Linked DNA regions of Homo sapiens: regions 2 and 3 are each reported to be linked to region 1. The links are microRNA targets in miRTarBase. Many come from high-throughput screens and were not tested one by one. Region 1 holds a microRNA gene; each other region holds the end of a gene's coding sequence.

Region 1 (7,192 bases):
TCTCCTGCCCTTTGTGGGCCCCCCGAAATCTGGAGCTCAAGCAGCACCGGGGTTGCCACTGCCACCTCAGGACCGCTGGTGACCCCTTTCTCTGTCTGCATTTAGGGGGTGATCGCTGAGCTGAAGGTGCGCAGGGACCCCCAGGTGAGCCCCATGCACTGCCTGGACGAGGAAGGCGATGACTCAGATGGGGTGAGTGACATCTGGGGCACGGGTGGGGTCTCCCCTCAATCCCTGGCACGCGGAGTTCAGGGCCAAGGTCTATGACAGGAAAAGTCCCAAAATATACCACTTGGGGCACTGGGAAGCTGCGATACCATTTCTGTGCTCTCCTGTAGCACCTCAGAGCCCTTCCTTGCCCTGAACTTTCCCATAAAAACAAATACAAAGCATGATATAAACACCAGAAACCACCCTCCATGGCAGCTGGTGAGACAGAGGATGTGAGGCAGCTCAGCAAAGTGTGTGTGTGTGTCTGTGTCTGTGTGGTGTGTCTCTGTGTCTTGTGTGGTGTGTCTCTGTGGTGTGTCTGTCTTGTGTGTTGTGTGTGGATGTGTGTGTGTCTGTGTGGTGTGTCTGTCTTGTGTGTTGTGTGTGTTGTATGTGTGTCTCTGGTGTGTCTGTCTTGTGTGTCGTGTGTGTCTGTGGTGTGTCTCTGTGTGTAGTGTGTCTCTGTGTGTGGTGTGTCTCTGTGTGTGTGGTGTGTCTCTGTGGTGTGTCTGTCTTGTGTGTTGTGTCTGCATGTCTGCATGGTGCGTGTGTCTCTGTGTCTGTGTCTGTGTGTTGTGTGGCGTGTGTGTTGGTGGGGTGTGTGGAATCACGTGGTACCCAAGGGGAGAATCCCCCAGCCCCAGGTGTGAGGAACAGCAGGGAATTCTCACTCAGGGGCCCAGATCACAACATGCCCCACGTGAACATGGACCCACAGCCTCGCTCCTGGGGGCGTGGGCAGGAGACGCCGTGGACGTGGACCCACAGCCTCGCTCCTGGGGGCGTGGGCAGGAGACACCGTGGCTGGACTGTGGGCAGTGTGTGAACATCCATGTTACTTTCATGCTTTTTCTTTATTTTGCCCAATAAGCCCGTTGTTTTTGCCTGGAACATGCCAGAAGACGCCAGATCGTTCACATGGCGGCCATGACAAGGCTGCGCCCTGGGACAGCTTGCTGGGTGCGGGGGGTCGCCGAGGCGCCGCACCCCTCCCCTGGCCTGTCTTGCCCTCAGGGGTCAGTAGCGGTCCCTGAGGATGTTTCTCCTCCGGGTTTTCCTGAAGTTTAAAACATCCAGCCGCCTTGGCGCGTGTTCGGCCCAGCCGGGCGTGCGCTGGGGAAACCTGTGCGGGGAGCATCTGCGGTGCGGCCTCCTCCAGGGCAGGGCTCTGGCCAGAAGAGAGGAGCGCGTTCCCCCTCCCGCCTCCGCATGTCTGACCACCGGCCGAGGCAGGTTCAGAAGCGTCACTGTCCTCGACCCGATTGGACACGACTTACTGAAGCTCAGATGGTGCCTGGGCAGGGAAGGCCAGCGTGCCCACCCCAGCGGCCCCCCGGAGAGCACCAGAGAGGGCTGGACGAGGCGAGAGGGGGCCTGGAGGAGGCGAGAGCAGCGTCCTTTGCTTCCCAGGCCTGCCGGGCTCGGGGCCTGGCCTGGCTGCCATCTCTCCAGCCTTTCCCTTTTCAAACTCCTCAGGCATCCGGAGACTCTGGCAGCGGGCTCGGGGACGCCCGGGAGCTTCTCAGGGAGGAGACGGTGAGTAGCCGGACGGGGCCCAGCCCACGCTGCAGGGTCCCGGGAGAGCCCCTCCCAGCAGTGGGGTGACACATGTGCACACGCAGGTGTGGCTCCAAGAGCTCCCTCTATGCCACGAAGACATATTCCTGGCTGGGGACAGGGATGCTGGGCTGGGCAGACGCTCGGAGCCTGGGCACAGGCCCCGCTCCGGCCCTGCCTGGCCGCCGCGTGTCTCTGGTGAGAGGATATTCCTTTAAAACGAGGTCCTGCCCTGCACACTCCTTGGTCTTCGAGGCAACCTTGGCCTTCCCTTCGCCCCATCCCTCCGTTAGCTCGTGCGTGGCCATCAGGGAATGAACGCGTGTGTGAGCCTGACGACCAGGAGGAGAAGGCGGCGCAGGGAGCGCGCGGAAGGCTTTCCCCAGCTCGGGCCACCTGAGAAAACACAGGAGGGGCGGGGAGTGGGGAGGCCCCAGCCGCGGGACTGAGGCGCGGTGCTGTCCGTGAGAGACGGGTGCGGGAACGTGTTCCCTGCGGGGACCCTCTGCAGATTCACATCAGCTTCCCAGCATGGCCTGTCGGGCGCCGGGAGGCCTCTGTGGTGACGGCAGGCGCGGTCCTGGGTCCTGGGGAGCCGGGGAGCCCACAGGCGGCCACACCCCTGCGGCCCACGGAAGGAAGCCCCTCGCGCACGGCCCTGGAGCACCCTCCTGTTTCAGAGGATTTTTCTTTATCTTTCTTGCGATCTTAAGTATTTCATTTCACAAACCAAGCAAGTCTCCACCGGGCATCTGCCGGCCGAATAACAGGCCACCTCCCCTCTCGTCCTCCAGGGCGCGGCCCTAAAACCCAGGCTCCCCGCGCCACCCCCCGTCACCACGCCACCCTTGGCTGGAGGCAGCAGCACGGAAGATTCCAGAAGTGAAGAAGTCGAGGAGCAGACCACGGTGGCTTCGTTAGGAGGTAAGCTCTTTTCTGGATGTGGTGTGTGTGTGGTGTGGGGTGTGTGTGGTGTGTAACGTGTGTTTGTGTGATGGTGAGGTATGTGTGTGATGTATGGTGTGTGTAGTGTGTGGTGTATATGGTACATGTGTGTGTGATATGGCACGTGTTTGTGTGAAATATATGGCAGGTGTTTGATGTGTGGTGTGTGATGTGCATGTTTGTGACATGTGTGATGTTTATGTGATGTGTATGTAGTGTGTATGGTGCATGCATGTGGGCATGTGTGTGTGCAGTGTGTGGTGTGTGTATTGTGTGTGGTGTGGTGTGTGTGTTGCGTGTAGTGTACGTGTGTGGTGTGCAGTGCATGTTGTGTTGTATGTGATGTGTAGTGTGCGTATTGTGTGTATGTGTGTGATGTGCATGTGTAATGTACATGTGTGTGATGTGTATTATGTGTTTTGTGTGTGTGTGTGTGTGTGTGTGTGTGTGGCAGGTGGGGAGATGCCGAGGCCCGGATGGTGGCTCTGGGTACAGGCTCTGGGTGTTCACTGTGCTTCTCTTGCAGGATTTCTGTTGGTTTTCATTTTTATTTTAAGTAAAAGTTAAGAGGGAAAAAGGAAAAGGGACAAAGCATGCTGGGTGATAAGAAGGCATTCTGGGGGGCCAGGGTCTCTTGTAACAAATTCAGGAAGCATCTCCCAGACTTCAGCTGTCATTGGCTTAGATGGCCACACCGGCCTCACTGTTGATTTTAAATTCTGTCTCCCTGTTGCCTTTGCCTGGGAGCTGGAGCTCAGGGGAGTGCGGCCTGAGGCTGGGGATCTGACAGTGTCCAGCCGGGCTCCAGGACTGAAAGCGTTTGGGCTGCCGGGGCCGTCTGGGGTGCCGAGAGCAGAGCTGGGGCCACCCGGGGGGCGTGACCGTGGCCACCTCTGCTTCTCTTCCCAGCTCAGACACTTCCTGGCTCAGATTCTGTCTCCACGTGGGACGGGAGTGTCCGGACCCCTGGGGGCCGCGTGAAAGAGGTAAGGCCACCTCCCTGTGCTCCTGAACCATTCTGAACCAGAGCACCTGTGGCCTTTTGGGCCACTCACTGGTGAGCCCTGATGAAGCCCCTCTGTGCCCGTGCCTCCTTTGTGCCCAGCACTCGGTGCCAGCATGCGTCCACCCTGCGTGTCCACTGTGGGAAGCAGCCCAGCCTGGGACTCTGGAGGGCGCAGCGGGACACGTGGGCAGGGTGTGTGGGGCCCCACCCCAGCCCGAGCCCTGTGTTCTGTTTATTCCCAGGGCGGCCTGAAGGGGCAGAAAGGGGAGCCAGGTGTTCCGGGCCCACCTGGCCGGGCAGGCCCCCCAGGATCCCCATGCCTACCTGGTCCCCCGGGTCTCCCGTGCCCAGTGAGTCCCCTGGGTCCTGCAGGCCCAGCGTTGCAAACTGTCCCCGGACCACAAGGACCCCCAGGGCCTCCGGGGAGGGACGGCACCCCTGGAAGGGACGGCGAGCCGGTGAGTCCTCACGTCCCCCCGAGTCCGGCCCGGTCTGGAGGGTGGGGGCTTGGGTAGGAGGGGGAGAGGCTGCGGCCGACATGGGAGTGAGCTGAGCTGGGATCGGGGCAGGTCAGCAGCCTCCTTAGGCCCACCGTTGCTCGGGGTTGGTGCTGGAAGGTGGTCAGACGTGGGAGGCGGAGCTGCTCAGACACAGCCCTTGTGGGTGTGAGGAGGCTCCTGGCGCGGGTGCGAGGACATCGGGGGAAGGCGTCTGCCGCCTCGTGGGGACTTGGAGCGTGGGGTGCATTTCCATGTAGACACTGTAGGTGGCGCCGGAGGAGTCATTTCCCATCACTAATGGCTTCTCTTGCACACCCAGGGCGACCCCGGTGAAGACGGAAAGCCGGTGAGTCTGCTTTTCTTTCTGACCCCTGTGTTATCTGTGATGTTTGCTTAGACCCCAGGGCTTTGTTGCCAGTGACACTCTTTTTAAACGCGACCCAGTGAGGAGACTGTACAGCAAAACCATTTTGAAAGTGGAATTTTGTAAAGAAAAGATGAGTGTAACTGTTGATGGGAAATAGCAGTTATGCATTTGTGTTGAGACATTTGGGCCACAACTACCATGAAGAAGGAAAGGAAGTGAGAAAAGGCAGAGCTTCCAAACCCTTAGAGGGAAGACGCACAGCAAAGAAAAAGGAAGTCGGGCGGGGCAGGGGGTGGTGCAAGTCGGCGGGGGAGGGAAGCACGGGGCGACCTGAGACTCTGTGAAGTCCGAGCTTCGTCGCAAAACACGCAGTTCAGTCTTTAAAAATCAGCAAACACCGTTTCCAAGCACAGTAATGACGTGATCGACTGCGAATAAAGACCTGGGAACAGCCTGCCCAGCAAATGGTAACACTCGGCAGAAAGTGGGGCCGTCACGAACGCTGGACAGGAGGGTTCAAGTTAAAAACAGTCTAGAAGGTCTGAAAGGACAGGGAGGGCATCTCATGGTGCCCACCGAACGGTCATTACCGACCGCCTGGCACCCCACAGCCAAGCTGCCTGCGATGAGGACCACGGCAGACAAAGGACAGTCGGCTGGGGGGCGGCACGGGGCCCACCCACTGCAACAGGGTACACGCACGCGTGTGAGTGTGGGGTGATGATCCACGGGGCCCACCCACAGGGCACACACACGTGTGTATGTATGTGCATGTGTTTGAGTGTGTGAATGTGTGACTGCGCGTGTGTGTGGGGGGGTGAGGATCCACACGTACACATACCACACATGCACACACAGCACATATCACACACCACACATTACACACCACACGTGGACACATGCACACACATTACACACATGTGTGCACACACCACACATTACACCACACGTGGATACACTTGCATACACACACTACACACACGTGTGTGCACACACACCACAGGTGGACGCATGCACACATGCTACACGCACGTGCACACATCACACGTGGACACATGCACACACACCACACATTACACATACCACACGTGGATACACACATACACATACCACGTGTGCACACATGTGCACACCATGGATTATGCACACCATACATGCACACTCACACATCACACATACATATCACACATGTACACACCACACTCCTCACACACACACCATGCATACCACACACACACACACATGTATGTAACACCCAAGCACCAGCTGTTGTGGAGGCCTTCGGGGAACCTGCTGTGACCTCCCGAGGGATGCTGCCCGCAGCTTCCCCCAGGCGTGGCTGGCGAAATGGGCTCAGGCGGGAGACAGTCTGCTGGGCCTGGCGCCCTCGTACTTTCCGGGCCCCAGAGACTCCCCTGAAGGGCTCAGCTCCCGTCCGTCCCCTGCTTGGGGGAGGAGCACTGAGAGTGCTGGGTGCGGCCCATGGTGGTGCCTTCCCTGACCGGGCCCCCGGATGTTGTGTTCCAGGGCGACACCGGGCCACAAGGCTTCCCCGGGACTCCAGGGGACGTAGGTCCCAAGGGCGACAAGGTGAGTCTCCGTGGCTGGGTGGGGCCCCTTCCTGTGTTGGCCCTTGGCTCAAGGTGGGGGCTGTGTGCGTGCCCAGGGTATGATAGGCTTGTCTTGTGTTCCCAGGGAGACCCTGGGGTTGGAGAGAGAGGGCCCCCAGGACCCCAAGGGCCTCCAGGGCCCCCAGGACCCTCCTTCAGACACGACAAGCTGGTAAGTCCCGCCCTTGGCTTCCTGCGACCCGGGGTCTGCCCTCCTCAAAAGCAGGCACTGCCTCTGGCCCAGAAGTATCAGCTCCACCCTCAGGGGCTTGCGTGGGGTCTTGGCTGAGCTGAGGGGTCACAGGTGTGGTGGGAGCCCCCATCCACCTGCCTTCAGGCTTCTCTGGGGGCAGCAGAGGGGCCGTGGTTTCTCAGCTCCTTGTAGAAACAGCTCGATATGCAGCTTGCGGGGCAGGGGCCAGGAGTAGGCCAGGCGGGGGGCCGAGCTCAGGGCAACGTGTCTCTCCGGCTCTTTTCCTCAGACCTTCATTGACATGGAGGGATCTGGCTTCGGGGGCGATCTGGAGGCCCTGCGGGTGAGTGGCCCTTAAACTGCAGCGCTGCCCGATGTCTGTGCCCATGAGGAACAGGCCATGGACCCCCAAGATTCAGCTGGGGTCCTGTGGGGGGTGGGGATGAGGCCCGTTCTGGGGGTGGTGGTCATCCCTGGTGGGTGCCACATGGGCTGTGACTATCTGTGTTCGCCCACGTCCAGGGTCCTCGAGGCTTCCCTGGACCTCCCGGACCCCCCGGTGTCCCAGGCCTGCCCGGCGAGCCAGGCCGCTTTGGGGTGAACAGCTCCGACGTCCCAGGACCCGCCGGCCTTCCTGGTGTGCCTGGGCGCGAGGGTCCCCCCGGGTTTCCTGGCCTCCCGGTAAGTCCTGCCTCCACCGTCAGTGTCGGGAGCCCTGTCTGCTGGGAGTGAGGGGTGAACACCCCACATGGGAGCCCCTGCCCCGCCTCAGGCCTCCCCAGTCCCCGCCTCCTCACCTCATCT
Region 2 (7,187 bases), not on the chromosome of region 1:
TGGGAGCATTGCTTGAGCCCAGGAGGTCAAAGTTACAGTGAGCCAAGATCACATCACTGTCCTCCAGCCTGGGTGACAGTGAGACCCAGTCTCTTAAAAAAATAATAATTTTTTTTTTTGACACGGAGTCTCGCTCTGTCGCCCAGGCTGGAGTGCAGTGGCATGATCTCGGTTCACTGCAACCTCTGCCTCCTGGGTTCAAGCAATTCTCTTGCCTCAGCCTCCTGAGCAGCTGGGACTACAGGCATGCGCCACCATGCCCAGATAATTTTTGTATTTTTAGTAGAGATGGGGTTTCACCATGTTGGCCAGGCTGGTCTCGAACTCCCGACCTCAGGTGATCCACCTTCCTCGGCCTCCCAAAGTGCTGGGATTACAGGCATGAGCCACCGTGCCCAGTCTAAAATTTTTTTAAAAAAGAAGAAAATAAAATAAGAAAGGGGCCTGGTGATGGAATTCACTATGCTATGAGAAGCATGGTTTAACTATTAAATAATTAAAAATAACAATTTAAAAAGAAGACAACTAATCAATCTGCCCTTTCCAGAGAGAACCCAGGTTAGTTCACTGGGAATATAATTATCTTCAGCCTTGGGGAATAGGAGCACAGAATGGTTCTGGAGAGGAGACAGTGTTGAGGAATCCTCCACTGTGGTTACCAGGAAGGTCTCAGGTCTAAAACGATTCCTAAACTGAGGCTTTCTCCTAAGCCTGATCTTCATCTTTGGCTCTCCCTGGTGGTGATGGTACAGGAGGCATTTGACATTCTCTAGACATGGGGTCTGGACCTGCCACCTCCGCCTTGGTACCACCTCTCATTCCAGGCTAGGGGAGGCTGGACAAAGCACAGAGGTTCATTCTGGGCCTGGGTGCATCCTCCTGCCCACTTTCCACCCTGCCTGTGTCAGGCTAAAAGCCCCTCTCCCAAAGATGTCCAATTCCTAATCCCCAGGACCTGAGGATAAATATAAATTTTCTTTTAAGAGAAGAGTCTTACTATATTGCCCAGGCTGGCCTGAACTCCTGGGCTCAAGTGATCCTCCAGCCTCAGCCCCCTGAGTAGCTGGGACTACAGACACTCACCAGCTGCTTAACCTGTGAACATTTTATCTTAAATGGTAAAAGGGACTTTGAAGGCAGGATTTAATTAAGGATCTTGCCAATGGGAAGATGATACTGAATTATCCCAGTAGACCCAATGTAATCCTTACAAGTGAGAGGCAGTAGAATTAGAGAGATGTAGGGATGGAAACAGAGGTTAGAGAGGAGAGAAGATGCTCTGCTGCTGGCTTTGAAGATGGTGAAAAGAGCCACGAATCAAGCACTGCAAGCAGCATCTAGAAGCTGGAAAAAGCAAGGAAACATTCTTCCCTGGAGCCCACGGAAGGAGTGTAGACCTGTCAACACTTTGACTTTAGCCTGGTGAAGCTGATTTTGGACTTCTGAACTGTAACATAATAATTTTGTTTTTTGAGCCACTTTGTGGTAATTCATTACAGTGACAATAGGAAACTAATGTCCTGCCCCAGCTTCTGGGCAGCACTAATCTGTTCTCCTAGGAGAGTAGGGTCTAAGTGAGTGTATGGCATGGGTAGGGAATCAGAGGAGGCTTCCTGGAAGCCCCTGCAGTCAGGTTGATCTGGGTTATTACAGCTCATTTGTTACTTAACTGACCTTGAGCAAATTTATAAGTAAGACTATTGTTAACAATGCACTGTTTATAGGATTGCTAAAAAGTAAATTTAAAAATATTTTCAATTATCTAATTTGTAAATTAGCAACTTTTTTTTTCAGTCACATCTCCTTGTGGGCTTACACATATTCATTCTTCCATTCACTGAACAGGTGTCACGGAACACCCAGTGTGTGCCTGGCACCATACACACAATGAGCTTGTGTCTGCTACAACTCTCAAGCATTTCTCACTGAAGCTGTCACTGAGCTTCCAGTTAGCTCAGTGCTCAACCTCAATGCCTCCATCCTAAATGCAGGCCTCAGCCGGGCATGGTGGCTCAAGCCTGTAATCCTAGCACTTTGAGAGACCGAGGCGAGTGAATCACTTGAGGTTAGGAGTTTGAGACCAGCCTGGCCAACATGGTGAAACCCCATCTCTACTAGAAATACAGAAATTAGCTGGGTGGTAGTGGCGTGTGCCTGTAGTCCCAGCCACTCAGGAGGCTGAGGCAGGAGAATCGCTCGAGCCTGGTAGGCGGAGGTTGCGGTGAGCCGAGATCATGCCACTGCGCTCCAGTCTGGGCGACAGAGTGAGACCCTGTCTCAAAATAAATAAATAAATAAATAAAATAAATAAATGCAGGTCTTTACAATGCCCACTCCCATGGTCTCTTGTCTCAGCCAGCACCGCCCCCGCTTATCCCCCCAGGCACTGTTTCTGCAGCTTTCATGAGCAGCCTCTTCTTTGTCTTTACTCTGACCCCGGACAAAAGCCCCCAGTGCACTTGAGGGCAGTATGCGCCCTCTGATATTTTCCACACCCCGTTTTCATCCCATCCTCTCCTCTCTCTGCATTTCTGCCCTTTTTCTTACCTTCTCCTTCTTTGAGCTCCCAAACAGCTGTACCCTATAAGCCAGAAAAGTCTAGTTAGAGAGAAGCTGAGCCTCAACCAGCCAAGTTAGAGGCAGGTAGAAGGGACCAAAGATATGTGTTTACTGGAGTTTCCGGGCTTCTCTGGTGGTGAACTGAAATCTAAGGTATTCAGCCAGGATGCCTAGACCTAAGCGGAATACCCAGGCAGCCTCACTCACCCCAGCTTTCCAGCCCCACAACACTCTCAGGTGCTATCCAATTGACCCGTAATTCCCTGACCTGTGGAGCCACACCTACTTCTGCAAGACCCATCTAAGTTTCCTAATTTCACAGCTCCCCACCCCCACCTCTGCTTCTAACCTCCAGGTCTGAAATGCTGAGCTCTGTTCCTATGATGTCTGGAGCTACTAGCCCTCCTTCCCAGAAAAATGGTGGGTCCAGGATTGATTTTTCCTCCTATCTGTGATCCAGACTAGTGCATCCTTCACCCCTTCATCCAGTCCAGGCCCAGGGTTTTCTTTCCTGCAGCTCTTCCTCTAAAGACTAAGCTGCCTCTTTAGGAAGAGGTGAGAACGCAAACATTGTAACAGGGGCAAAATTGCTTTCAGTCCCTTTGGGCTTCAGTGGTGTTGACTGGCCAGGTGATGGAGCTGTGGGCATGTGGGCTTGTGATCTGGGTTTTCTGACCTGGACGTCGCCACAACTTTACAATGGGTGATGCTGGGCAAGTCTATGCCCTCTTTAGGTCTGACTCACTAGCCTTTCTGCGCACTGACGGGGGCTGGTCTTTAGAAGGCCATGTTTTATTTGAGCTTGGAGGTTCCACACAGCAACTCCAGCAGTGGTGCATAATGGCCACAAGAGGGCGGGCAACCTCTTCAGCTCATAAGTGTGTAGACTGAACAAGTGAACCTCAAATAAGAATACTATACAGTGTCTTCCAAGAAGGGTATAATTCCATGAACAATGTTGCTGAAGAGAAAAAAAAAAGAAATAAAGGCTGGGCATGGTGGCTCAGGCCTGTAATCTCAGCACTTTGGGACGCTGAGGTGGGAGGATTGTTTGAGCCCAGGAGTTTGAGACCAGCCTAGGCAACATGACAAAACCCTGTCTCTAGAAAAAATACAAAAAGTAACCCGGGCATGGTGATGCGTGCCTGTAGTCGCAGCTACTTAGGAGGCTGAGGAGGATCACTTCAGCCCAGTAGGCAGAGGCTGCAGTGACCCGAGATCGCACCACTGCGCTCCCGCCTGGGCGACAGAGTGAGACCCTGTCTTAAAAATAAAACAACAGGCCAGGCAGGTGGCTCACACCTGTAATCCCAGCACTTTGGAAGGCTGAGATGGGCGGATCACTTGAGGTCAGGAGTTCAAGACCAACCTGGTCAACATGGCAAAACCTCGTCTCTACTAAAAATACAAAAATTAGCCAGGCATGGTGGTGCACGTCTGTAATACCAGCCATTTAGGAGGCTGAGACAGGAGAATCGCTTGAACCCGGAAGGCAGAGGTTGCAGTGAGCCGAGATCGCGTCACTGCACTCCAGCGTGGATGACAGAGCGAGACTCCATCTCAAAAACAAAACAAAACACAAAACAAAACAAACAAACAAAAAAAAACAGGAAGGGTAATTAACCGAGGGCACACTACAAAATGACTACAGAGTAGGGACTGGAATAGGAGATTCAAATTCCCAGTCTGAGGGGAAGTCAGGAGTCCCAAGACCATAGGAGTGGTATGGAGAGGTCTTGTGAGCAGTGGAAGAAGCTGAGAATATACTTTGGACATTTCAATCATTTGAGGGGGTGGGAGGGGAAGAGAGGGTGTTTAGGGACAAGCCATGGACTGAATATTGCTCCAGAAGGACCGGGGTGGGAGTTTCAAAATGAGACTTGAGGAATTTAGGGAAGCAGAGATGATCAATTTGGCTTCCTTCCCTTCCCCAACACAGAATACAAAATAGAGAAATGGCACGAGTTATTCCAGGATTTGAGGAGGACGCCTCTTTTGCAGGAGGATGCAGTGAACAGCCAAAGTCATCTGACATCCTTTTCCATCTTTTTCCTTCTAGTATCCCAGTTTCAAGGCCCAGGAAAGGCAGGGACTAACATATGGAGCAGTTACCCCAGAGTTCAAAGGGTTAATCTCTAAGAATTCATTCTCTGACACCAGCCACAGCTCTTGTCCCCATCTCTGGGACCGTCCCCTCTGAGCCCCAGGTTGGCAGCTTCCCTGAATTCCTTCTATGATATAATTTGTAATTCGGCAGGGCTCTGGGACCCAGGCTCAGAGACCCAGGCTCTGCTCTCTCCTCAGTTTCCGGGAGTCAGGGCTTGCTCTAAGGGAGGAAGTAAACAGGCCTTTCCCTTGCTCCCTCTCCTTTTCCAGGATGGGGCCCCGGGACCAAAGAGCTTCTGTCTTTCCCTGCCACGCCCCCACGCTGCAGCCTAGACAAGGAGATTCCTTGTGTCCCGACCTCAGGCAGGCATCCTTGTGACCAAATGGTGGAAGGCTGGGGACAGGGTGGGGGAAGGGCAGTCACAAAGTCAGAAAGGATGACACCTCCCCTATCCAAGATTCTGGTACACCCCCAGAGCTCTGAGACCTTGAGGTTCTCTCTCCCTGGCTCCCATCAACAAAGGGCAGAGGAGGCCAGGACTCATTTGCATATAAAAGGCCTGGAGAAACTGAAAAGGCATGGACACACAGAAGCTGAACCTCCTGGAAGGGAGATATGGAGTCAGAATACAGGAATAGGGCCAGACACAGCAGCTCATGCCTGTAATCTCAGTAATTTAAGAGGCTGAGGCGGAAGGACTGCTTGAGCCCAGGAGTTCAAGTGCACCCTAGGCAACATGGTGAAACCCTGTCTCTGGAAAAAAATACAAAAATTAGCCAGGCATGGTGATGCATGCCTGTAGTCTTAGCTCCTTGGGAGGCTGAGGAAGGAGGATCATTTGAGTCCAGGAGGTCGAGCCTGCAGTGAGCACTACTGCACTCCAGCCTGGGCAACAGAGGGAGACCCTGTCACCCTATCTCAAAAAAAACAACAAAACAAAACAAAAAAATGGAATACAGGAATAGGGGCAACACAGGGACAGGGTAAGACAGGGGACCATGGCAGGGTGAGCCAAACAGACTTGAGAGAAATAAATGGAGGCCCCTGAAAGCTTCTCTCCCTAAAAGCAGTCAGGAGTGCTGGCCCAGACAGGGATGCAGGGATGGAGCCACAGAGGAAGTGAGATCCCCTAGGATAAAATGAGAACACTCTATTTAAAAAGTAAGACCTGAAAAGAAGCACAAACATCTGACAATGAGAAACTTTCCTGCCAGGAGGAGTGACATGTTACTGTTCACAAGAAGTAATGGTATGGACGATAAATAATGTGATCTCACTTAGCAGCAGGGGCTCAGATGCCCCTATATGACCTACTACCATCCAAGGACCCGTACAAAGGGCTACCCATCCTGGCAGGAAATGACATCACTCAGCAGGTAGGAAGGGGTGGGTCTACCAGCCCAAACGCTTCTGGGAGGGCCAATCCATAGAGGGTTAGTCCTGAAGGTCCATGTCCCTCCTCAATCCTCCATCTTGGCCAAGAGAGAGGCCAAGGCTTCTAGACTTTGGGTGAAGTAATTATGCCCCCATCTCTTCATCTGTTAACTCCAGGGAGTCCTAAATTCCTTAAATCCTTACTTAGCTGGGGGGAGTAGTGAGAGATACTAAATACCAAAAGCCATAGGTCAATCCTTTAGAGTCAATATCTCTATAGAAGTATCTCTAGGGGCTGGGCATAATCCCAGCACTTTGGGAGGCTGAGGCGGGAGGATCCCTTGAGCCCAGGAGTTTGAGACCAGCCTGGGCAACACAGGGAAACCCTATCTCTACAAAAAAAAAATAAATAAATAAACAATTAGCTGGGCATGGTGGTGCATGCCTGTGGTCCTAACTATGGGGGAGGCTGAAATAGGAGGATCGCTTGAGCCCAGGAGGTCAAGGCTGCAGTGAGCTGTGATCATGCCACTGCTCTCTATCTTGGGTAACAGCATAAGACCCTGTCTCAAAAAAAGAAAGAAAGAAAGAAAGAGCAAGCTAGCTCTAGGGACCCAATAATTGAGGGATAAAGGCAGAGACTCCCTAGGGACTAGAGAAATGATGAGCCAGGTTTCCATGGTAACTGATTTCAGTGCAGCCTCTTCCTAGTCTCAGACTGAGGGAGAATCAATTTTGGGGGAGACCACATCTAATGGATAAAAGAGCCACAGGATTACAAAAGGGTGGAATAGTTGTTACAAGAAGGTCACATCATCCTGGCACTGCTCCCAGAACCAGTGGGCCTCGAAGCCCAGCTTGGCACTCTCATCCTCTGGTGACTCAGGTGGTCCACCTTGAAGCCTCTCCCCTGGGGGCTTCCACACAGCTCTCAAGCTCCCTAGCCTGGTGGCTGCCACATCCACCTCAGTCCTGGCCCTCTCTCCACCAGCTATAACTTTTGCCCAGTCCATCTCGGAACGTGGAGCCCCAGGTGGGCCCTGTTCATCCAGCTCGCTGGGGGCCACTGTGTCCAGGAAGCTGCCAATAGAGACACTGTCCAGCCGGTCGGTGGTGCTGGTGTCTGGCAGGCTGTCCCAGCTGCCTC
Region 3 (7,192 bases), not on the chromosome of region 1:
AAGCAATTCTCCTGCCTCAGCCTCCTGAGGAGCTGGGATTACAGGTGCCCGCCACCACGCCCAGCTAATTTTTGTATTTTTAGTAGAGACAGGGTTTCACCATGTTGGTCAGGCTGGTCTTGAACCCCTGACCTCGTGATCCACCCACCTTGGCCTCCCAAAGTGCTGGGATTACAGGTGTGAGCCACCACCTCCGGCGTTTTTTTTTTTTTTTTTTTTTTTTTTGAGATGAAACCTCGCTCTGTCGCCCAGGCTGGAGTGTGATGGCACGATCTCGCCTCACTGCAACCTCCGCCTCCCGGGTTCAAGTGATTCTCCTGCCTCGGCCCCCGCGAGTAGCTAGGATTATAGGCACCTGCCACCACGCCCGGCTAATTTTTGTATTTTTAGTAGAGACAGGGTTTCACCATGTTGGCCAGGCTGGTCTAGAACTCCTGACCTCAAGTGATGCGCCTGCCTTGGCCTCCCAAAGTGCTGGGATTACAGGTGTGAGGCACCGTGCCTGGCTCTACATGACCTGTCTTTTTCTCTTTTTTCTTTTTTTTGACCTTTCTTTTGTTTAAGAAAAATAGATTCTCAGACAGGATCCCATGATCACTGGTATCCCTGGGTTGTGCTGAGGCACTATAAAACCAAACAATGGGCTGGGTGCAGTGGCTTACTCCTGTAACATAGCACTTTGGGAGGCCAAGGCAGGAGGATGACTTGAGCCCAAGAGTTTGAAACCTGCCTGGGCAACATAGATAACATCTCTACAAAAAATGCAAAATTTGGCCCAGCATAGTGGTGTGCACCTGGAGTCCCAGCTATTCGGGAGGCTGAGTGGGGAGGATGACCTGAACCCAGGGAGGTTGAGGCTGCAGTGAGCTGTGATCTATAGCCTAGGCTACAGAGTGAGACTCTGTTTAAAAAAAAAAATGTAGGTTAGCTGGGTGAGGTGGCACATGCATGTAGTCCTAGCTACTCAAGAAGCTGAGATGGGAGATTACCTGAGCCCCAGGAGGTTGAGGCTGCAGTGAGCTATAATTGCACCACTGCACTCCAGCCTGGACAACAGAGTGAGACTCTGTCTTAAAAAAAAAAAAAAAAAAAAAAAAAAAAAAGCCAGGTGTGGTGGCTTATGCCTGTAATCCCAGCAGTTTGGGAGGCTAAGGCTGGTGGATCACTTGAAGTCAGGAGTTCAAGACCAGCCTTCTCAACATAGTGAAACCCCTCCTCTAGTAAAAATACAAAAAAAAAAAAAAAAAGTTGGGTGTGGTGGCATGTGCCTATAATCCCAGCTACCCGGGAGGCTGAGGCAGCAGAATCTCTTGAACCCAGGGGGTGGAGGTTGCAGTGAGCCGAGATCTCGCTGCTGCACTCCAGCCTGGGCGACAGAGCGAGACTGTATCCAAAAAAAAAAATAATAATAATAAAAATCAAGTAGGTGTCTGACTTATCAGAAAAGCTCAGAAACTGCAGGGAGATGCGTAATGCTGGTTTAGGGGAGCAAGCCGTTCTGTGGGGGGCCCACCTCTCAGATGGGCCTGGTATGGAGACCCAAGGCCAGGCTAATCAGAAAACTCCATTCCTCCTGACCATGGTAATTATTCAGGGATGAGAATGTGATCCTTGCCTATGGGACCCTGGTGCTGCTGGTGGTGTAAGGGAAGCTTGCTGCAGGGGAAGAATGAAGCCACCGAAGATAGAGGGTTCTGATGACATACTAGTGCCTGCGCCTGGCTGACCTGTAGCTGGTACTAGTCTGGACTCCTGCAGAAACCAAGCTGATCTCTTTCTGTCATGGGCTGGAAGTGGGTCACATGGTCATGTCTTCTTTGGGTATAACTTTTCCCTAGAGTGTAGGATAGAGATTAACACTGGTGTTTCTCTGTGTTCCTTGGCGGGCTCTCTGATTTTCAGCAGCTCCACATGAGATCTGCTCTAAATCACTTTTCACAATCGACTCTGCCAGGATTCCCTGACTCTGGGGCTCCCACTCTGGTAAGCAGCACTAGGGTTTCAGTAGTCCCCTGTCCCTACTGAGAGCTCCAGGTGGAAGATGGGATCCTTTCCCCATCCTCAGGTTTCCTGGCCTCTAAGTCCCTCTGAGAGCCCTTCACCATTTACTGTCTCCCCATCGTTCTGGCAATTCCTAGGGGTTAATCCCCAAACCCTAGAGGTTTTGCCGTAATGCAACCGCAGGCGCTCCATCAAAGTTCAAACCCCGGCCTGCAGGATGGGGATGCCGGAGGCTCTGGGGAAGAGGTTGTGAAAGGGTAACACTGCCGCCAGCCCCCTCCCCCAAGTCTACCAGGCCCTTCCCGTGCAGATTTGCATTTGGTTTGCACAGGACTAATTTATCTCAAGGAACTTCCAAACCTAAGACCACCATCCCAATCACCTGAAGCTATCTGCGGAGGCTACACCCTTTCCCCCGGGCCAGCTTCCACATCTGCCCAGTGGGGCATTTCCCCTTGTCCCACCCAGCGACTGGTTGACAGGAAGCAGGGTGTCTATGGACTGGCGGCGGGCGCCCCTTTTCCTCACCTCCCTGCGCGGCCAGCGGGGGCCCGGGGTGTGGTCAGGTGGGAGGCCCGCGCCACGTGCGGCAGGAACCGCCTGGCGAGTGGAACCCGAGCTTGCACGGGGACAGCTGATGCCTTTCTGGTCGCTCCTCTAGAGCTCCGCGGGCTCCGGCAAACCCCCCCGTTAGAACTTGCGGTTCCAACGCGCAGCGCCAAATCTGGCCCTTACTTGACCCGTCAGCGCCTCCAGTCGTCCCCATGTATAAAGTAGGACCGAGGAGCCACCTCGCCAAGCTTTCACTGCGCGGAAACGCGCCCATCAGGCTGGAAAGGCGTGGTTCCTACTACAGCTCGGCCGCGGCAGGCTGGGGCCGAGAACCGGCACCCGTGCACGGCGGACTAAGACGAGGGTGAGGGACACGGGTGGGCCGGGAGAGCCCCGTTCCCATAGCCGGCTTCCTTGAGCCCCTCCCCAAGTTCTGGGACTCCCCAAGTTCCCACCCCGCAAGCCAGTGTGGTTTCTTCAGATGAATTTTATTCTTACTCTCCACGGGCTGCTCCGGCGTCTAGGGAGGGAGTGTGAGCTCCGAGGACTTCCCGCAGCATCCCCACCAGAGGCGTCCAGGGGAGGCTGAGGGCCGGCCCCCGTCACCCCCGCCCCAGGAGCACACGGGACTGAGTGTATGGCACAGGCATCGTCTGGAGGCCTTGCTTGTTCAGTGATAGTTTATTGGTCCTTAGCATGACATCTCGATTACCAAGGTAAATTCACATACACAACTGCAGGTAAAAACATGTAAAATAATATAAAAATAAATTGAAGGCTACTTTTATATATTTACTGAATTAAGTAGTGTAATAAATACTATGATAAGCAAAAAGCTTCAATCGCACAATTCAGTTTCACTGAAGTTACAGTAGTGTTTGTAAATACGAGTTTTAAAATTTAAGTTACAAATATTAAAGCACTGAAAAACTAGTATAAAAGTGAATTTTGGCACGTAAGTGAGCTCTTATGTCATTAGTATTTGACATCCTGGGACAATGAGGAAGCCAGTTCTCACCTACTTTTTTGAGGTACAACTATCCAACTAGATCAGCAACACGGCTGGAATACTTCGTAGTTTACAATCTTTGAATTGAACTTTTCCCTTTTGAGAAGCCCAAGGAGCAACCCAGAGCTTCTTACTGTGCAAAAATTCTCCAAAATCCTAATAGAATTTAGGAGGGAACTTTTTCTTGCGACCTGAAGGGCCCAGTGTCCAGGCTTCAGGTCAGATAGCCCCCAGGGCTCAGAGGGGCCGGCTCAACTCCTTGCCAACGGCCCTTCCCTAGGATAATAATCCCATTTCCTCCAATTTCTGTCTCCTTCTTCCAATCAAAAACAGAAAAATCCCATGTAAAAACATAAAATAACCCGTAACTTCAGCGACTTCAACATTATCCCACGCACTCTGGGTGATATAAACTGAAGCTGCTAATAGGAAAGTTAGCAAAAAGCATGTAAGCCCCGGGAGGACTGCCTGTCCCTGGGAACCCACCCCCGCTCTTTGCTGGGTCCCTGGATCCACTTCTAAGGTCAAAAGCAGTGTCATGGCCATTCCTTTGGAAACAGCAGAAGACCCTGCTCCTCCCACCTGGAGCGCCGCCTGGAGGAATCAAGTGGATACTGACCTTCACAGAACAGAGAGGCCTGGCAGGTTCCAGGAGGCATCCCCTGGCCTCAGTCCTCAAAGAGCTCACAGTGCACCGCGGGTGTGCCTTATCAGTGGGGCAGAGCAAGTGGCCCCAGGAATGCCCTTTCGCCAGCTGCCCCTTCACGTTCCCGAGTAGGCTGAGGAGCATCAACAGAGGCCTCAGCCAGTTTTGCCTTTTTGGCTTTGATGCTTCTTCACGTTTTGACTTTTTTCAATCACAGTTTCATATTCAAGTTGAGGTAATCACAGTTTTTTCTCTAAGAGGAGAGGAGTTGGGACAGTGGGGCAAGTTGGTGAGAGAGCATTTCTGTGAAGAGAAACAAAGACCACCACGTAGTACAGCCCCACATGGTGAGAAGACCCGCTCTCACGGGCGGGCTCCGACCCCTCTTTAAAAACTCTTCTGCAGCAGCCAGACTGCCAGGCCAGTGCAGTCAGGAAATGGCTCAAGCTCCTAAAGCTAGAGCTTTCATTTAAAACTTCACAGCAGCCCACTTAGAGAAATGGCCTGTGGTTCCCACCCCCCAACCCCTTTTCTAAGGCTGCTCAAGTTTGAGTTTTTAAAAAGAGTTCGGTAGAGCTAAAGGAAGCTACAGTAACTCACTGCTTATTAATCAATTGCACTTAAGATCTATGTTACTGATTCTGAAGCGAGGCAAGCCCTTGACGGACCGCAGCCTCTGGCCAGCCAGAAGTCAGGGGGCTCCCAGACTTAGGTTCCACAGTGGGGCCCTTGTCATCAGTGGCTTTTGGAGCTGGGACTGGAGCACGTGGGTCTTTTCAGAAGCCCTTCTTGATGCAAAATTTCTTATCAATGGTATCTGGAGTTTTGTTCATTTGGCTTCAAATTGTTTTTTTTTTTTTTCTAATATATTTTACTGACAAGCCCTTGAGAGCTGCTTTGCTACTTGCATGCAGGCCTCTGTGTGACCAGGCACACAGACTACATGTGCTCCATCTTGTCTCTCCGCTGCTCCAGGGGCCTTGCTCAAAAACCCCCTATATTACTGGAAACTGCTGGTTTTACCTATGTGCTTCTTCCTAAGGCATGCAAAAAAAAATATGTGAAATTCAGAAAACATTTACAGTTCAGGCAGCTGAGGCACTGAAGTCCTAAGAGACATCACCTAAATATCAGTGGCTGTGACTCCCCTGTCCCCCACACCAATTATGAAGGTCAGGCATGGGACACACTTGTAATTCCCCTCTGCTTTATGGTCCAGCTTAAAACGATGCCATTAGAAGGAATTCTAACTCAGGTATTGCAATTATTTGAAATTCCCAATCCTCAGGAGCCACACAAGCCCAGGGCCAGCAACAACACTTTGGGGAGCGGGGGGATGAGTTTCCTGAAGTTTGTGGCTGAAAAGCAGGCCTTCCTTGGCAAGGCTTGTGGGAGCGCTGGGTGCTGGAGACTGACCCCACAAGTGATCAGCCACCAGGCCTAAGACTAACCAGCTGCAGGACGCCCCCTTCCACAGTGAGGTGAAGCCTCGCCAGGGGGCCTGAGCAGCAGGCTTGCTCTTGTCCCTACATTAGGACACCCGAATGGTGTGACAGGAGAGCTAAAGAACCACCCACAAGGGGAAAAGCTGATGTCAACTTAAGAGCCACACACCTCTGGAAAGCAACAAGCCTCTCCTTCAGTTTAGTCCAGAAGGGAAATCCCCTCATTTGTGAACACATCATTCATCTCAACCCAAGCTGCTGGCTCTGTGGACTGGGCCTGGGCAAGGCTGTGCTGCTCCTCCCAGGACTGGGCCCACGGCCAGTACGGCCAGCTCCTTCAGGGAAACGGGCCTAGCAGGGGAGGCAGGCACTCCACTGGGGAAGATGGCTCTCGTGGAGCAGCATCTGAGGCTTGAGGCCTGTCGTGGCCTCGCCTCCCAGACACGGCCACAGTTCAGGCAGCCAGGGTTCCTTCTAAGTCCCAGTAGCTCCTCTGTGTAATCCTAATGCTTCTCCCCAACCTCAAGAGCCCAAAGGAGATCCTGTTATCAGAAACCCAGAGCTCCTGGACTGCCAGTTGCACACGTAGACGGGCAGGCCCCATCTGCTCATCCTTGAGTATTCCCCCGACCCCCAAAATCAATGGTGCAGGTGATGCTCTTCAGCGCTATACAGGGAATAAAGACAACATGCACTCAAGCCAGCCCACACAGGCCAAGGAGAACAAAGACAGCCCCTTAAGGGAGAGGCCTCCAGCAGAGCTGAGGTTAAGACACCCGTTCGTCCATCTCCAAGGTGGACATTCTGCAGGACGTACGGGCCCAGCCTTCCTCTAGGGCTTCAGCTCAAAGAGGTCATGATACTCCTGCTGTTCCAGCTCCTGGTTATACTTCTCAATTTCCCGGTTGGCTTCTTCCACGTAGTCATTCATGAACTGGTCCATGACTGGTATCTCATTAAGGAAGAGAGCTCTGAGCCTGGAGGACAAGGGAGGCTGCCTGAGCCCAGAGCGGCCTGTAGGCAGGTGAGGGGGGTTTGCTGAGGAAGTGAGTGTCTGGCCCATAGAGAGGGAACCTGATGGACTCTTTGTATATACTGGCAGCACCACAGCTACAAAGAATGCAATGGCTGTTGTCACAGGGATGTTAATGAGGTCCTAGAACTGAGCCCTTCAGCTTCAGCCCTATCCATCTTTTCACAGGTTAACTGTTGTAATTAGGCTGTCTTCGACTTGTAAATCGTGACTCTGATGACGACAGACTTCAGGATATCACCGCAGCTGCATCCAAACTATAACTCACAGGCTGGGCGCAGTGGCTCATGCCTGCCATACTAGCAATTTGGGAGGCTGAGGTAGATGGATCACTTGAGCCCAGGAGTTTGAGACCAGCCTGGGCAACATGGCGAGACCTAGTCTCTAAGCTGGGCGCGGTGGCTCATGTCTGTAATCCCAGCACTTCAGGAGGCTGAGGTGGGAGGATCACCTGAGGTCAGGCGTTTGAGACCAGCCTGACCAACATGGAGAAACTCCGTTTCTAC

What was found. The annotated mature microRNA hsa-miR-6815-3p reads UGGCUUCUCUUGCACACCCAG and lies in region 1 at 4,517-4,537, shown strand. An mRNA with a match to its seed (bases 2 to 7 or 8) in the 3' UTR can be bound and repressed. Matches are read on the target gene's strand: a 7mer-m8 pairs with bases 2 to 8, a 7mer-A1 pairs with bases 2 to 7 and ends in A, and an 8mer does both.
Region 2: miRTarBase lists LURAP1 as a target of hsa-miR-6815-3p. Seed matches in the 3' UTR shown: 7mer-m8 at 6,160-6,166.
Region 3: miRTarBase lists DNAAF9 as a target of hsa-miR-6815-3p. Seed matches in the 3' UTR shown: 7mer-A1 at 5,043-5,049.

What each region holds. Positions count from the first base shown.
Region 1 is chr21:45,473,790-45,480,981 of GRCh38, forward strand. It overlaps MIR6815 (microRNA 6815), which reads left to right and starts at 4,477; the gene lies at 4,477-4,537. COL18A1 (collagen type XVIII alpha 1 chain) reads left to right here. Exons shown (of 42, transcript NM_001379500.1): 4 at 106-192; 5 at 1,687-1,746; 6 at 2,562-2,691; 7 at 3,622-3,698; 8 at 3,961-4,176; 9 at 4,538-4,564; 10 at 6,113-6,175; 11 at 6,281-6,367; 12 at 6,678-6,731; 13 at 6,911-7,069. RefSeq lists an enhancer at 1,059-1,559.
Region 2 is chr1:46,219,871-46,227,057 of GRCh38, reverse strand. LURAP1 (leucine rich adaptor protein 1) reads right to left here. Exons shown (of 2, transcript NM_001013615.3): 2 at 5,802-7,187. The coding sequence ends at 6,838. It also overlaps a transcript of POMGNT1 not described here. Among named protein-coding and RNA genes, the nearest start is that of LURAP1, 20 kb to the right of the region's middle. RefSeq lists an enhancer at 7,128-7,187.
Region 3 is chr20:3,246,087-3,253,278 of GRCh38, forward strand. DNAAF9 (dynein axonemal assembly factor 9) reads right to left here. Exons shown (of 37, transcript NM_001009984.3): 37 at 3,220-6,598. The coding sequence ends at 6,486. Among named protein-coding and RNA genes, the nearest start is that of SLC4A11, 10 kb to the left of the region's middle. RefSeq lists enhancers at 2,047-2,792, 2,793-3,537, 4,197-4,697.